2 separate regions of the Homo sapiens genome follow, and region 1 is linked to region 2. Evidence: fine-mapped expression QTL. Tissue or cell type: tibial nerve. Region 2 holds a variant in brackets; the other region holds the start of a gene. All regions are shown on one strand. Distances are between the middles of the regions.

Region 1 (8,088 bases), 140 kb after region 2:
AAGGATCTTGCGACTGGGGGTAGATAGGCTGGTAGGGTGGGGGGAAGTATGGGGGCTGGAAGTCGGCATTGGGGGTGTGGGACAGCGGCGGGGCGCTCGTGTAGGGAGATTGACCTACAGTGCCCAGCTGGGGCAACCGTGCCGTCCCGTTGCTGGTGCCGTCGTGACGGTCCTAGAAGAGAGCGAGAGGAAAGGTAAAGAACAAGGAATCAGGCGTCGAGCTACAACTATCCACACAAAATCCACTTGACAAGTCTGCGTGGGAAATCGCCCGTTCCCGTTGGCTGGCCGCCGGGAAAAAATCAGCTCTAAGTTCTTTTCAGGAAATACCCTCAAGTGAAACAGACCGAACAACGCAGAGAAACTGTATATGGAGGGGGCACAAGAGACTATTTAGGGGTTTCTTTCAAAGAGAGGAAAAGATAGAAAAGGGTCTCCTGGAACACAGCCCATTAAACTGCAGCGTGAAATCTCTCTTAAGCAAAATTAAAATTCCTCCTAAATACTAAACAGCAGAAGCGGCCTTTTCTTTTCCCCCGATTTGAACCTGTCTGCCACTGCGTTATTGTTTATTCTCTTCCATTTATTTGGAGAGAAAAAAATCATAAACGTTCAAAGACTGTTACCGTTTCATGACTACTTAAATAGAAACATATTTCGCAGAGGGGCTGTAACAAAAACACACGTTTAAATTACCAGCTTAAAGAAGGTTTTAACTGCAGGATCGGGGTCTGTCTTTTTCGCTTCCTCTGTTAGGAGCCTTTTTCTCGACAGAGTCGATTTATGGTTTGGATAGGGAAAGGGGGACGTCAAGTCAAGGTTTAAAATAGAAAGATTCAGCCTTATTGGGTTTAAAAGAGAGAGGTGCACCCCGGGGCTGTGGCCCCCCCCCCCCGCCCCTTCCACCCCAGCCCCAAAGGGCAGAAGAAACGCCTGACTTTAGGTTTCTCTATTGCAATTCCCTTGCAAAACAAGCGAAGAGAGTTGATTCCAGAGACCGCGAACCCTCGGCGGTTCGGCCGCAGGTCCCGAGGGTAGGGGGCACACCGCGCTGCACTTTTCCTGCAGACAGTTTAAGCATCAAATGTTGAGAACATCTCGGGGACAAGTGAAGACTCAAGGAAATCAAGATGAACGTGGGGAGAAACACGCCTTGGGAAGCCGCGGCGAGGTAGGTCTGCGTGCTCGGAGAGGTCGAGCGGGGGCTGGGGTAGGGGGTAATGCACTCGATTTAGGGATGGAAAAGAGCGAGAGAAAGGCGGAAGGTGGGGTGGGGGATGCAAATGGAGAGGGTGTCCTGAAGGAAAGCTGGGCGTGAAACCCGAGGTTTCGGGCAGCTCCACGGCACCAGGTTTCCAGAATCCAATTCCTAAAGAAACAGCAACGGGGGTGGGGATGGGACTCACCATGGCTGAAAAACTGTGAACTAACATCTGCGAAGAGTCTGGGGTAACGAGTCAGGGTGGAAAAAAACAAGCAAGCCTGGAGCGCCCGGCTGCCCCGCCGCCCGAGCGCGCCCCACACAAAAGGCGCCGAGAGCCCCGCGCCACCCAGGACTCCAGTCACGGCGCCGACGCTCCCCGGAGCGCGGGAGCCCGGCTCGGATCCATCCGAACTTGAACCACCGATTCGCGCGGCGCCTTCAGCTGGTCGAACCCACGGTCTCTATCCTGCCGCGACTGGTTATGATTCAAAGTTCTTTAAAAATGAAAAACCCCAAAAAAGGAAAAAGGAAAAAGTATGTGTGAGTGTGTGGGTGCGTGCGTGTTCCTTAATCCGTGTCTCCCCCTCTTTTCTTAGCGGCGGCTTCGCTTGAGCTTCTAATAACCGCGCTGGGCAGCGTTCCTGGAGCCTCCTAATAGCAGATATTCATGACTATTAATATTACACGAATACTTAATAAGGGAAGAATGCCTGGAAATCGAGCGTGAAGCGGAGAGGCAACTCGCGCCGGAGCCGGCTCTCAATGCAGTCCATTGACGGGAGTCTCAGTGTAGCAAATCGGAGTGGGGAGAGGGAGCGCGAGAGACAAAAAGCGAGCGAGAGAGGGAGCGGGCGAGCGCGCGGGGGGCCGCGGCGCGGCGTCTGGCGAATCACAGGGAAGGGGCAACATTTTAAAAGGTTGCAGGGCATGCAAAAGTGAAAGAGAAAGAGGCAGAGAGGGAGACCGAAGGAGAGAGCGCAGAGAGGGAGAATGTGTCTGCGTGCGTGTGTGAGAAAGAAAGTGTGGGCGAGGGAGAGGAGCCCCGGGTGGGGAGAGGGGAGGGAGGGAAGGAGGGAGAGCCCGAGAGGAGGAAGGGAGGGAAAGAGGGAGGGAGGAAGGGAGGGAGGGAGGGGGAGGGGGCCCAGCCGGAGCGCACGGAGGGGGAGGCCGCGGGGGAGGGGGAAGGGGAGAGGAAGCGAGCGAGGACAATCAGACCTAAAAGGCTGGGGCAGACCTCGGGATGCAGCGGGGGTCGTGCGTAGCGGGTAGGAGCTGCTTGGGACCGCGTCCGGGCGCTCGTGGGGCTCTCGGCGCGGCAGGCGCTTCCCGGCCCTGTCTGGCCGCGGGCTCCGCCGCTTCGCAGCCGAGTCTGGGACTCGGGACTCGGCTGCCCGCTGCTGCGCGGCTCCTCCATGACCCGGCGCCCTGCCCGGGACCGGCCCGCTCGCTGCACTGGTCCTCTCCTCGGCCTCCTCTTGAGCTTTCCTCGGACAGGGGCACCGTGCGCTCCCCGGCCACCGTCGCTCTGCCCTCGGCTCTCTGGGGCCGGGGATTCCGGATCGGGAGCCGGGATGCGGGCCGGGGCGCGCACAGACGCTAGGCGGCCCAGCCCGGGCGCCGCTGGCACCGGCTCGCGGCTCCCGGCAAAAACCCGTCCGACTGGCTGGGCCACTCCCGCCTGACGCCCCCCCAGATGACACGACTAGCTCTCCCGGCGTGCTGCCTTTGCCAGTCTACCCGCCAGGTTGTCAGAACAAGCGGCACCTCGCCTCCTGCGTGTCCCTACAGAGCCCCGGCACAATCAGACTGCCCCAAGCCAGCTCCGAAACCCGAAATCCCCGCTCCGGCGCTTGCCCACCACGGCCAAAGTTGTGGAAACAGCTTTGACTTTATTCTCCTCTCTCTCTCATCTTTTTTTGCCTCGCTTACACACGCATTCACACTTGCCCCCACAGGATCCCTCTAGGGGTGCAAGTTCATCCCCCACCTAGCCACCCACCCCATCCAGTCGGCACCTAGAGCCGCACGGAGGTTCGGACCCCGCCCGCCGAGGGCGCCCACACCTGGAGCTGGGTTTCGGCCTCTGCGAAAGTGAAATGCCCAAGCCTCCGGCCAAAGCCCAGACCAGTACAGTATGAATTGTCCTATGAGACTGAGGGGTTCGGCTTCATTCCTACCTGCCCGCAAAGCTCGCCCCCAGCCTCGAAAACAAAGCGACTGGTCTGACGTGGGGTCCCTGCGCCCCTCCTCTAGCGCGACAGGACCCCCCCAGGGAAGAGCCAGTACCCGTGGGATGTCACCCCGTCCCCATCTACCGGGGTGGGGGGCCTGAAAGGAGAACGATTTAAAATAATCTTCAGAAAGAAAAGGGAGGAGGGAGCGGGTGACACATCGTTCACATAAACCCAATTTCTGGTTTCGAGTGAAGTCAAGATCTCCGCCCCTGCGCCTGCACACACACCTCCTGCCTAACATTCTCAGCTGCAAATGCCAAAAAAGAAAAAAAAAAAAAACAGCAAAAGTTGGGACTGCCACCTATTTATTTAGGTAATCTCCAGCCCTACACACCCCAACCCCTCTCTCGGACTCATTGCTCATTACAGTGTTGGTTGTAACCGTTCCCAGCGCCTCCTGCGGGTGGACAGGTCGCGCTAGGGTCTCCCTTGCTGCCTCAAGAAGGCGAGCTCAGGGGACTCTGCGTTTTAAAATGGGTTCCAAAGCGGCGCGCTCTGTCGGCCCAGCGGGCTTGCGGCACCAGAGGTGGTCTGCAGCCGCGCAAGGATTCCCACGGTCGTTCTGGGCTGGTGCAGAAGCTGGTGCTCCCGCACCCAGCGGCCAGCAGGCTCGGCGCAGCACATCTCCCCACCCCACCCCCACACACCCCCGTGGGGTGCGTCGATCCTGTAGCTCAGAGGGAGAAGCTACTTAGAACTTCGTGAAGCACAGAGGATCTGGAGCGAGCCCCGCAGCTGGGATCAGTGGTCTTAAGTTGAACCCGCTTACAGGAAGATGCAGCCCAGCTCACAGCGAAGTGTGGGGGGGCCGTCTCTAAAGCCGAGAAGGGAACCGCTTTAGAAGTGGGGGTGGGGGGAAGAAAGAATGAATGAATGAATGAATGAATGAATAGAAAGAAGAAGGAATATTAAAGATCGGAGAGGAAGTTCAAGAGAGAAAAGAGTTTTCTCTTTCCTTTCTGTTCCTGGTGACTTGGGCCCTCAATCTCGATGAAGATAACACGAGGAGTGCACAGGCAAGTGCCCAGTTGCCAGCAATTGCTTCAAAAGCCCATGTTCTTCTTTTCCCCCATTCTTAGGCACAGCCAAAATTGGTCAGAAAGGGGAGTAAAGTGGGACACGAGCTTCAAAGTAGGGAAACCAAAGAAGGGAGCATCCACGTCCTCTCTCTGCAGCTTCTCCCCCGCGTTCTTCGGGCGAATCCGAGGGACGGGCGCTGCGCTGGGGAAAGTTTGTCCCACCCGCGTTTCGCAGCTGGTTGCAAGGAGAGGAGGAGGAGAGGGAGGGTCAAGCTCGGAGCCTGTGACCGCACGGATGATCGAGCCGGCGTCGCGCTTACCTCGCAGTCCTCGTACTTGATATTATCCGTCAATTTCCAAAGCATTTTCATGGATCGGCGTGAACGGATATGCCCCTCTCGGTCTCGCACCCAAGTGGAGCTACTCTCTGGGTGAGCGCAAAGTGCTGGCTGCCGGCGGTGAGCGCAGGAGGAGGAGGAGGAGGGAGAGGAGGTGGAGGAGGAGAAGGAGGAGGGAGAGGAGGAGGGCAAGGAGGAGGAGGAGGAAGAGGAGGGCGAGGAGGAGGAGGAGGGCGAGGAGAAGGGCGAGGAGGAGGAGAGAAGGGAAAGAGCTCCCGTGTGCGCTCGGAGATCTCCCTCTAATGGTAGAAACTTTTCCCTTTTCCAGCTCTTTACCAACAGCCTAATCGCCTCATTAGCATATCAACAATAGTCCAATTGCTCGCCAGTACCACAATCTGCCGCCGGCCGCTCCGACACAGGTATAAAGGCCTCTCTACGCCGCGAACTTGCTTCTAGAGCGCACTCCAGCCTGCGAACTGATAAAACCTTCCTCGAGCTCCGCCGCGAGGCCCTGCCCCAACACCCCCTCTCTTACCCCAATTCCGCCACATTCCCCTTCCTTTCTTTCTCCGCTTCCTTTTCTCCAGAGATGCCTTCTGCAAAGCCCGGCACTGCTCAAGGTCCAAGCGCCACGCCTGGGGCCCAGCTTCTAGCACTTCTCCCTTAACCCTGCTACCACGATCCGAGCTGCCCTTTTGGCCCCGTGCAATTTTATTAGAAATCATTATCCCTTTCGCAATTAAACATAACCACCAAACCAAGACCGGCGAAGTCACTCCAGGATTTTTTCCCAACAAGGGATCGCCTCCGCTCGAGGCAGCCACCCCCTCGGGCCGCAGCGCCTTGGGAGTTTTATTGGCTTTGAGCTTTCCCCCAGGTTGGAGATTCTGCCAAGCGGCTCCGGTGGCTCTGCTGGGGTTTGCAATCCCTTAATTGCAGCGTGTAAAATAAAAGTTGTACCCTGAAGAGGTTACTTGACAGCTCCAGGGGTTAAACAATTTTTCTCCTGTTTGTGTGAAGCTAGGGCCAACTGACAGTTCAAATTGGTGTTCAGGCTAAGGTTTCCTGGGTGCAACGTGGACACGAATACAGAACTCCTATGGAACTGCACACCCGCTTCTGAAGTTGAGCCTAAAAACAGACGTGTGTGTGCCTGCAAGTCTAGATACCGTCTCGTGCGTGCATCAAAATAAATCACCGGGAACCGACTTTTAGCTGTGTTAATCTGCTCTAGTTTTCCCAAGATTCCCCTTTTTAATTAAAGCAGGGAGAGTTCCTTCATGATTTGGTGATGCTACTAACGCGGGCGTGCTCGCGAGGCAGAGCCCGGCTGCCGCGGAACCTGGAGGCCTGGGAGCCACCTACTCGTCCAGACTGGTCAGTCCGGGCTTTTGGACTCCTCACCGGGGCCTGCTGGGTCCTCTGGGGCTTTTATCCCTTTCGGTTTTGGGATTTTTTTTTAAGTAAGAAAAAAAAAAAAGAAAAGGACCTAATGTGACACTAGGAAATACAGAGTAATTAATTTTCCTGGCTGAGCTTCCTCGTTTGTCCTCCAAAAGAAAGTTACCTCTGTCTTTTCTCTCTGCTATATGTACAAACTCCTTAACTACACTAGGTCCCGCCTCAGAGTTGCTCTAGTAAGGACCTTTGATTCATCTGGGCTTGTTTCTCGAAAATCTCCAGGCCTCCCATATTTCCACCGGGCGTTCCTAAAAGGGGATGGGAACTGTGGCAGATTGGAGCATTCCCTCACAGGTGGAAGGAAGGCAGGAGCTGGGAGAACTCCCCATTCCACCCAAGGCTGCAGAAGGGGAATTCTCCCTCCAAACACCTCAGCAAACTCCCCAAACCTAGCAGAGTAGGCAGAAGGCTCCAAAAAGCTAGGGAGAAGCCGGAGCTGGCAAGGGGCCTTACAGACCCAGGAAGCCCTCCCCATGCTCTGGGCCTCCCTTGCCCTACCTGAACTGAGCACAATTCCTCGGCTGAACCGGGCTGGAGGCTTGGCGCCGCCCTCCGTCCAGAAAATGGTCGACTTTCCAGGGCTAGACCCTGCAGGGCTGTCCCAGCCTGTCGCCAGTGCAGTGGTTTGAAGTCAGGATCTGGGCTGCCAGGAGCACCGACACCCTCCCAGCAGCGGCCATAGCCTGAGCAGGCCAAACCCTAGGCCTGAGAGCATGGGTTTTTACACTCCGTAGACGTCGCCGCGGTGTGCTTAAGGGAACTCCAAGTTTCGCTTTCTTGCCCTCTGCGGGCTTGGAAAGGCCGCCCTCCATCCTCTGCCACCCCATTTCAACCCCCGTTTCCACCTCCCCGCTGCCCCGCGCCCAACAGATCTCCGGCTCCGCACCCGCTGGGGCTGCTAAACTGTTGTTGTATTCCCGCCGAGGGCGCCATTGAGGTGCAGATTGGGACCTGCCGGCTCTGGACTGCCGCCCCCGGTGTAGGCGCTGATGAAAGGCCCGGGCGAGCGCCAGGGTCGCCTCTGGAGCCAGCCGAGCTGCATTTATGCCAGCGTCATTACCACGCTAAGTCGCTTCATTGCATGTCAATGCTCCGGCGGGGCCAGAACCCCGGGACAGCAGCGCCAGGCCTGGGGTTGGAGGTCGGAGATCCAGGCCTGACGTGGGGGGCATAAAAAGGGCGTCGCGGGGAAGAGGGAGTATTTGTGTGAGAGACAGAGTCACAAAGAGAAAGAGACAGTGAGGGGCCAGAACGACTCTCTTTTCTCCGATTGTCAATGCCCAGTGGGAGCCGGGAGCCCAACAGGCCCAGCCCATCAGATTCGGCCCCTCCGGGCCCCAAATCCGCTCGCCCCACCCGAGATCCAGGCCTCCAGCCACTTGCCTAACTGTGAGCCCGCAAGAGCCAGGCCCGCGGCTCCCTCCTTCCTCCTCCTGCGGCAGTCTCGCGGCTTTCAAACCTTAGTCGAACCCACAGAAGGCCCAGTCCCAGGCCAAACCTACTCAACAGGCACCTTCTCACGGCCTAGGAATTCTGCAGCGAAATTCACTGGAATTTGAGGAGAAAACCCAAAGACTGCTCCGAAAGGACTCCCCCAGTCTTCAGCCTCCAAATAAGAGAGTTAGGAAGGGCCTTTAGCCCACAGGGTCAGGAAGGGAAAGGTGTGGATTCCCGGGATTTGTCTCTGGTATGGGATTTGCATCCTTAAACCACGAGGTTTGTCTAAACTTGCGGATGAAATACCATTTAGTGAGGCTTAACTAGGGAGAAGAATATAAAAGAGCTCACTCTTGATAAAAGTAATAAATCCAAGGGAAAAAAGTACAGAA
Region 2 (8,104 bases):
TGGACTTTTAAATCATAAGAGATAATACCGTTGTCAAGAGAGCACCAGTGCAGAAGTTGATTTCGAATTCTTGGTAAGGTCACAATCTACAGTGTCCTGGATATGTTCAGTAGATCCTTTTTTCTTTTTTTTGAGATGGAGTCTCACTCTGTCGCCCAGGCTGGAGTGCAGTGGCACGATCTCAGCTCACTGCAACCTCCGCCTCCTGGGTTCAAGCGATTCTCCTCCCTCAGCCTCCCAAGTAGCTGGGATTACAGATGTGTGCCATCACGCCCAGCTAATTTTTGTATTTTTAATAGAGAAGGGGTTTCATCATGTTGGCCAGGCTGGTCTCAATGACCTCAGGTCATCCACCTGCCTCAGCCTCCCAGAGTGCTGGGATTACAGGCGTGAGCCACTGCTCCTGGCCTCAGTAGATCCTTTTAGCTAACTTTTTCCACTTGGTTTGTGCATTTCTTCACCATGCTGAGCTGACAGATACGTATAAGCTATGTGGTATAGAGGCAACTTTTTTTTTTTTCAGGCAACCTCAAGAGGGCTGAAAAAGTTTATAAAATGTTCTGGAGATGCATTCATTGAGGCTCAGTAACTAAAGCTTAACTCAGCCTTTGAGGAATTTATGCTCCTCTTGAGAATCAGCTTTGCCCCTTTGTCTTGCTCAGCCCACTGGTGGGGGTCAATGGGCACACAAGAACTCCCATGGCAACAGCAGGTGCTTCTCATTCAAATTCAAACTGGTCAGTTTCTTTCCTTTGTTCACTCTGCTCTCCTAAAACCATCATCCCAGTCTCCTTGCTGCAAAACTTGCCAAGTCATGAGAGGTAAGTCATAAAAAGTTGAACGCTTGACTTTTCGGGCTTTATAGATAGGTTTGTTTGCAGATACGCAGCATTAAAGAGAATTTAGCTACCTGTCATTTCTCTGACAGCGCACCCCAAGGTTGTGAACCCCTCAGACATGTCCAGTTCTTCTCTTACAACCAAACCTGTCTTCCCAGACACTTCTGAATGAGGAGGCCTAGGAAGAAAGAGGAAAAGAGAGAGAGAAAGTGTGCACGCACAGGCGCACAAACACAAAATCCGGCTTCCACGGAGGACAGCAGCAGCCTGCTGCACAGTGGGGACCAAGAGATACAAGGCTGCCCATGTAACAGATGCAAGTTTCCCGTGCTCCGGTTCAGCTGGGAATGCAGGCTGTAAAGCTGAAATAAATCACATGGAACTTGCTGTCATCTCTCTACCTTCCTGCTAAACCCTTCGACACTGCCGCTTGACTGGCTGGAGTCGTCGTAGTTTTTAAATGAAGGCTGGAAACTGGCATTGGCAGCACTGCCTAATTTTTAGCTAATACCTTTGTGGGTTCTGCGCTCGCATCTGGCCAGTGCCATCATGCTGGGGATGATTATAATAGGCTGCTGCTCTTTCCCAAGCAGGAAGCTGGAGTCCTGTAACTGACAGGCTAAACAGAAGCTTGTTCCAAACACAACAGCACATCACAGCCAGAGAAGGGTCTGCGGTGCGGGACTTCTCCCAAGGCATAAAAAAGAGAGAGAGAGAGAGAGAGAAATGTGTTAACTGTGCTAACAGTGCCAAGTAATATGCTTCGTTAAAAATTTAATCACCTACAAGTGCAAAACAAGTGCAAAGCAATCATGTTGTAATTAGCACAGCAATTAACACCTCCCTTTTCGATAGCACATGCATCCTAGGAAGGGCAGGATTGCAAGTGTTTATGCTGCTGACAGCCTCAGTTCCTATAGAGAGGGAAAAAATTGCTTAAAGAGAATTTTTTGGTTTCTGGCATTTGGGCTTTTATGTGTTCATGAAACCTCAGAACCAGCTGCCATTTTGGTTTTGTGTGAAAGTTGTTCAGCTGTGTGGTAAAACTAACTAACTTCCCCATTTTGTGTGTTAGCTAAAGCTTCTCACTAGCACCACCTTCACCTTTTCTAACATTAAAATATAAATAAATTAGTATTAGGACCAAATTTGTCATGTATATCCACACAATTTGCATGCGAAATGGTGCTTCCTACCAAAAGAAAAAGAGAATTGTCTTCCTCAGTCCTTTATCCGAAGCCAAAATTAAAAAAAAAAATACTCAATAACAGGATAAATGACTACTGGAAAAATGCTCTAAAAGTATTCCTGCCAAAAAATAAATAAAAATAAATAAAAGTATTCTTTCTATCACTTTAGAAAATTAGGTGTCTTCTATGTCACCAAGACCAGTTTTAAGGACTAAGCATCAGTTTTTGTTTGTTTGTTTGTTTGTTTGTCTGTTTTAATTTTACTTTAAGTTCCAGGATACATGTGCAGAACGTGCAGGTTTGTTACATAGGTAAGCACGTGCCATAGTGGTTTGCTGCACCGGGTCTTTGCAGTAAGCATCAGTTCTCTAAGGAAGTCAGGGAAGGAAGGAAGGTGGAGGATCCTTCTGTACCATCTCATATCAAGCCCAAGTCCAATAACTGGTCTAGATAGAACGTGGCACCAGAGCTGCCTGGTATTAAGCGAGAAGTACCTATTCCAGCATGTACTGCCTATTAACCTGATTTATAGGTACCCTAGAGCTCATCTCAATACATAGAGATTTGTGGGTAAAACAGTTGGGAAAATAGAGCAAGCAGTCTTCAATCCCCTACTGGAGAGTTAATCTTTAACTTGCCAATCTCTTGTCTCTATCCCAGACAGATGAAAGCCTGTCAGAGTATGCAGTCTGAGATGCCACTGACTAGAAATTCATCTAAGGCCCCAAAGTCCTTGGCACAGTTTTAGAAATGACTCATTATGAGAATGAAACCTAGTTAGCAACTCGAAAACTCTGAATGTCTTTGAAAAAAGTTATATAAGGAAATTTTCTTTAAGTATGAAACATCTAAGAATTTAAGAAACAATATGAGGGAAAAGCAAATAAAATCTTTAGGATGAATTTGTTTTATTCTCATTGGCCATTGATCATGGAATGAATATGTTTTAAGGAGCAGAGGAAACATTTGGAGTGTGATGTTTGAAGGCTAGAAAGCAATTACCTATGCTTTACATTTCTTTTTTCTTTTCTTTTTTTTTTTTTTTTTGGTTTTTTTTTTTTGAGATGGAGTTTTACTCTTGTTGCCCAGGCTGGAGTGCAATGGTGCAATCTTGGCTCACCGTAACCTCCACCTCCCAAGTTCAAGCAATTCTCCTGCCTCAGCCTCCCAAGTAGCTGGGATTACAGGCACGCACCACCACGCCCGGCTAATTTTGTATTTTTAGTAGAGGTGGGGTTTCTCCATGTTGATCACACTGATCTTGAACTCCCGACCTCAGGTGGTCCACCTGCCTCGGCCTTCCAAAGTGCTGGGATTACAGGCGTGAGCCACCGCGCCCTGCTAAGCTTTACATTTCTACAGTCAACTTTGTAACGACATTGCTAAGATAGGAGCAATGAAAAGCAAGAGTCCCTAAGAACTGGCTAACGTGCCAACAGTCTGCGGTCTATAGAAAGTGCAGGCATTCACAGAAGCTAGTCACTTTCCTGGTTTGCTGTTTCCTTTTCCCAGCAATTCTTTTGTTCAAGCTCAGACGCCCATCCCAAAAAGCTGAGAAAGGAAACCTCAGTAAGATA[G/C]AAGACACACTTTATAACAGGGCAAGCTGCAATGAAAAATTCACACTGGAAACCTCAGTAGGAAGTAAAATGAAACCCCTGTCTCAAATACAAAGAGGACAAATGTCTTATTATGCTAAAAAGCCTCAAATTCAGTGTGTAGAGCTACTTGGAACAGACAGTTCCCATAGTCACAGTTTTTATTCATTCTTACAAAAACCGTCCTTGAGACCGATGTTCTTTAAATATTGCTATCATTTGTAAAACTGGTTAAAAATGTCTGCTGTATTGTGGCCTTAATCCAAAGACCCAGATGATATATTTCTGCATTTGCATTTATTTCTAATAAATATTATATCTCTGTTGCTCGATGTTTATTTTCTCTTTCATGAGAAAGGCTTAAATGCCAGATAATTTAAAAACAAGTCATGTGAAACTTTTGTAATTATCATCTTACATACTTGCTAATTAATTCATTCATTTAATAAGGAGTACTTACTGTGTGCCTGGCGTTGATTCAGGACTAGGCACTTTTTACAGTGTAAAAACAAACTAGTAACAATGAAAAAAATAAGGACTCCAAGGCTGAAAGCGCTATGAGAAGCTTTTTTTTCACTATCATATCCCTATTCTTCCTAGCATGTCTTAGAAATCTGTGAAATGAATGAATGAATCAATGATCAACACCTCCACAAGCTGACAGCCTAGGAGTAAAGTCAGTATATAAATGTATCTCATACAACTTCTAAATTGATGAGTACTATAAGAAAGAGACACAGTTGGGTCAGAAGTTCAATGGGCAAATAATCGTAATAATTTTAAAAAGAGACACATTAAGTGCTAGAGGAGAATGGAGACATAATTCCATTTTAAGTGCTGGAGTGAGAAGATAGAGTTAGGATGACAGAAACAATAGGTGTTTCAGTTTTGCAGAAACATGGTGTCTCTCAGTGGGAATAATGTTGGAACAATGCTGGAAAGGCAGGTGATGGCAGATCACAGAAGCCTTGAATGCCTGCCAAAGAAAAGTAAGTTCAGAAAGAGAAGCCAGTAAGGGGAGTGTAAAACTGATTAGACTGGAAATAGACTGACAACAGAGAGACCAATTAGGGAGCTATTGGAACAGTCCACGCACAAGTTAAAGGTTACCTGAGCTGGGTAAAGCCAATTTTACAAGGAGTAAAAGTCAAGAAACTGGTGAATTTCTAGCAGAAGCTGACAAGTTAGAGCCAGGCCATGCCAAGCAACACACCAAGGTTTCGATGCTTAGTGGCCGGGGAGGTACACATTCTACTCACAGAAATTGGTACCACAAAAACAAGAGCATTTTGCAGAGATGAGATGAAGGTTTTGGTTTTAGATGTACTACTTTTAAAGAATGATTGGATATTTGGTGACAAATGAAAACACCTGGAAATGTCAAACTAAAGCCCAAGAAAGACATCTAAACTAAATGTAAAAACAAAACTTTAGGATCCTCTGCGTATAGTTTCAGAATCAGCATGTGGTTGAAGCCATGAAATTGAATGAGAGAGAAAAGAAAAGTGCAGATAGAACCTTGAATACTGGCTAAATGTAGGAGGGAGAAAGGAAGTCAGGGAGGGAAGAAAGTGATTCAGAGCCATGAAATCCAAAGAGGAGAATTTCCAAAGCTTGTGGTGCCAAATGCTGCAGAGAAATGAAAGTATATATGAACTGAGAAAAAGCCATCGGATTTGATCACCAGGAAATGATTGGTGACCTTTAAAATGCAATTTCCATAGACTGGTAAGGTCAGTAAACCAACTACTAGGAAGTAAGGGTGGAGAGGATGATAAATCAGTGGAAGAGAGAATACAGATGATGCTTTCAAGAACACTGGCCTTTAGGAGAAGGAAAAAAATAGGAGACTGTCTTAGGAAAGAACAGGTCAAAGGTCAGTTTCTTTAAGACAAGTGTCCCTCAAACTGAAGGAGAGTATTTATCAAATAAGATTGCAGATTCTTAGACAAGGCAGTATGGGGGGGGGGAAAGTTTAAAAACAAATAAATAAAAATAAAATAAAAGATTGAAGACACAAGTAGGAAGAGATAATTGGAGGAGCAAGTTTTTCAGAGCAAACAAGAGGAAATGTAATGGCCTGGAAGACTATCACTTCAGAGAACTAAAGTAGAATTTCTTCTGCTGAGGCAATAGAAAAAATGAAGACAAACTTAATGAAAAGAAATACTGAAGTGAAAAATGAAAAATTTTGAAGGACTTGACATTTTCCTTAAAACAGGAGGAGCCAATTACAACTTCTACTTCTAGGTAAATGAAGTAGACATAATTTTTTCTATTCTTCTTGCTAAGTACAACTACAGAACCTGGGCATTACATATAAAAGAAATGTAAGAAGGCTCTGAAAGATAAAAAGAAGAAAGCAGACCAGCTGGAAACCTAAGGACACAAGGAATAATATAGTGTTGAATTCCATAAGTTTTATTTTTGCCTCCTAAATCGTAGATTTGGAGCTAAGCAGTCAACCCAGAAATTCCAACAAGCACAGGAAAAACAAACAAACAAAAACCTCAAGAACCAGGAAAGGAAGAACAGCCTAACAAGACAGAAAAACTTGCAGATGGTAGTCATTCTACTCCAGTGAAACCCTACAGAACACCTGAAGCCCTACCACACCCACACCAGCAAAGGCCAGGTGGAAAGCCTAGACTTCCACTCTCACAAGGGTGTAACAAGTGCCCAAACATACCTACAAGGATAGTAGGCCTCAGAGAAGGCCAAATAGGGAGCTGGAACATTCATCTCTATCAGGACGTAATGTGAGTGGAGGCCACAGGGACAGTAACAAGGCACTGCTATGCTCCCCACCACAGAGCTCTCAGTGGATGCCTAGTGGGGAGCTGAAACACCCAGTCTCAGTCAGCACTAACAAGGACCCTCTAGATTTCTTCCCCTATATGACAGAAGGAGTCACCCCTACACCTATTGTCACAGAGTGTCAGAAGAAGCCACTCAAAACAGAATGTTGAAATAAGATCCAGAGTCTCATGACATACTACCAAAAAATGTCAAGGTTTCAACTGAAAATCATGCATCATACCAAGAAATAGGAAGGTCTCAAATTGAATGAAGAAAAGACAACCAACAGATCACATCAAGGTGATGGAGGTGTTAGAATTACCTGATGACAATTTTAAAGCAGCCATCATAAAATGCTCTAATAAGCAATAATAAACACACTTGGAACAGATGAAGTTGTAGGAAATTTCAGTAAGAAATAGAATACTCAGCGAATACTCAGCAAGCAAATAGAAAATATAAATGAAACCCAAATGGAAGTTTTAGAACTGAAAAACACAATAACCCAAGTAGAAAACTCATTGCATAGGCTCAATAACAGAATGAGAGAGATACAGAAAAGAATTGGAGAACCGAAATAGAACAATGGAAGTTACCCAAACTGAACAGCAACAACAACAACAAAAAATTGGCTGGAAAAAGGAAATGAACAGAGACTAAGAAATCTGTGGGACTATAACCAAGAGTTAACATGTATGTTAACTCTCACAACATTTTGTGTTAAGAGAGTCTCAGACAATAAGGAGAAAGAGGGTAGAGTTAAAAATGAAATAATGCCTGAAAACTTCCCAACTTTCTCAAACAGGATAAACCCAAAGAAATTGACACCAAGACATATCGAAGTCAAATTTCAGAAAACTAAAAACAAATAAAAATGATTGAAAGCAGCATGAGAGAAAGAGTGCCTTACTTATAGGTGGATAAATAATTCAAAGACAACATATTTCTTATCAGAAATCATGGAGGCCAGAATAAAGTGGCATGACATTTTACAAGTGCTGAAAGAAAAGAATTGTCTATCAGAGTTCTATAACTATCAAAAATGTCCCTCAGAAATGAAAGGGAAATCAAGAAATTCACAGATGAAGAAAAATTAAGATAATTTTTCACCAGCAGATCTACCCTAACAGAATGGCTAGAGGAAGTTCTCTAAGCAGAAAGGAAACCAACAAACAGTGAGGAAGAAAGAACACAGTAAGTATTAATATGAGTAAATACAATACGCTTTCCTCGCATCTTCAGAATTATGTCTGACAGTTGAGGCAAAAATTATAACACTGTCTCATATGGTACTAAATGTTTGTAGAGGAAATATATAAGACAATTCTATTGTAAAGAGGAATGCTAAAGAAATATAAAGAGATGCAACTTTCTTGTACTTTTCTCAAACCAGTAAAATGATAACATCAGCAGGCTACAATAAGTTATACACATAGAATGCAATACTGAGAGAAACCACTAAAAATATATACACAGAGATACATTCAAAATATTATAGGTAAATCCAAATGGAATTCTAAAAAATGTTCAAGTAATGCAGAGGAGGGCAGGGAAAAGGAAACAGAAAAATAAAAAATAGAACAAACCAAAAACAAACAAACAAAAAACCCAGCAGACTTAAGCCCTAACATATCAATAATTACATTAAATTTCAGTAGTCTAAATATACCAATTAAAAGAC

The links. PIP is the estimated chance that this variant, and not a neighbour inherited with it, causes the effect.
Region 1: it holds the start of TFAP2A, and the variant in region 2 is fine-mapped to the expression of TFAP2A in tibial nerve (GTEx, PIP above 0.99).

Annotation. Positions count from the first base shown.
Region 1 is chr6:10,410,164-10,418,251 of GRCh38, forward strand. TFAP2A (transcription factor AP-2 alpha) reads right to left here and starts at 4,911. Exons shown (of 7, transcript NM_001372066.1): 1 at 4,778-4,911; 2 at 1-172. The coding sequence starts at 4,828. TFAP2A-AS1 (TFAP2A antisense RNA 1) reads left to right here and starts at 2,155. Exons shown (of 3, transcript NR_033910.1): 1 at 2,155-2,204; 2 at 4,518-4,888; 3 at 5,124-6,006. RefSeq lists a silencer at 2,395-2,754 and enhancers at 4,135-4,792, 4,793-5,452, 6,111-6,768, 6,769-7,426.
Region 2 is chr6:10,267,545-10,275,648 of GRCh38, forward strand. No RefSeq gene overlaps it. Among named protein-coding and RNA genes, the nearest start is that of TFAP2A-AS2, 130 kb to the right of the region's middle. The variant G/C (reference allele first, on the strand shown) is at 3,607.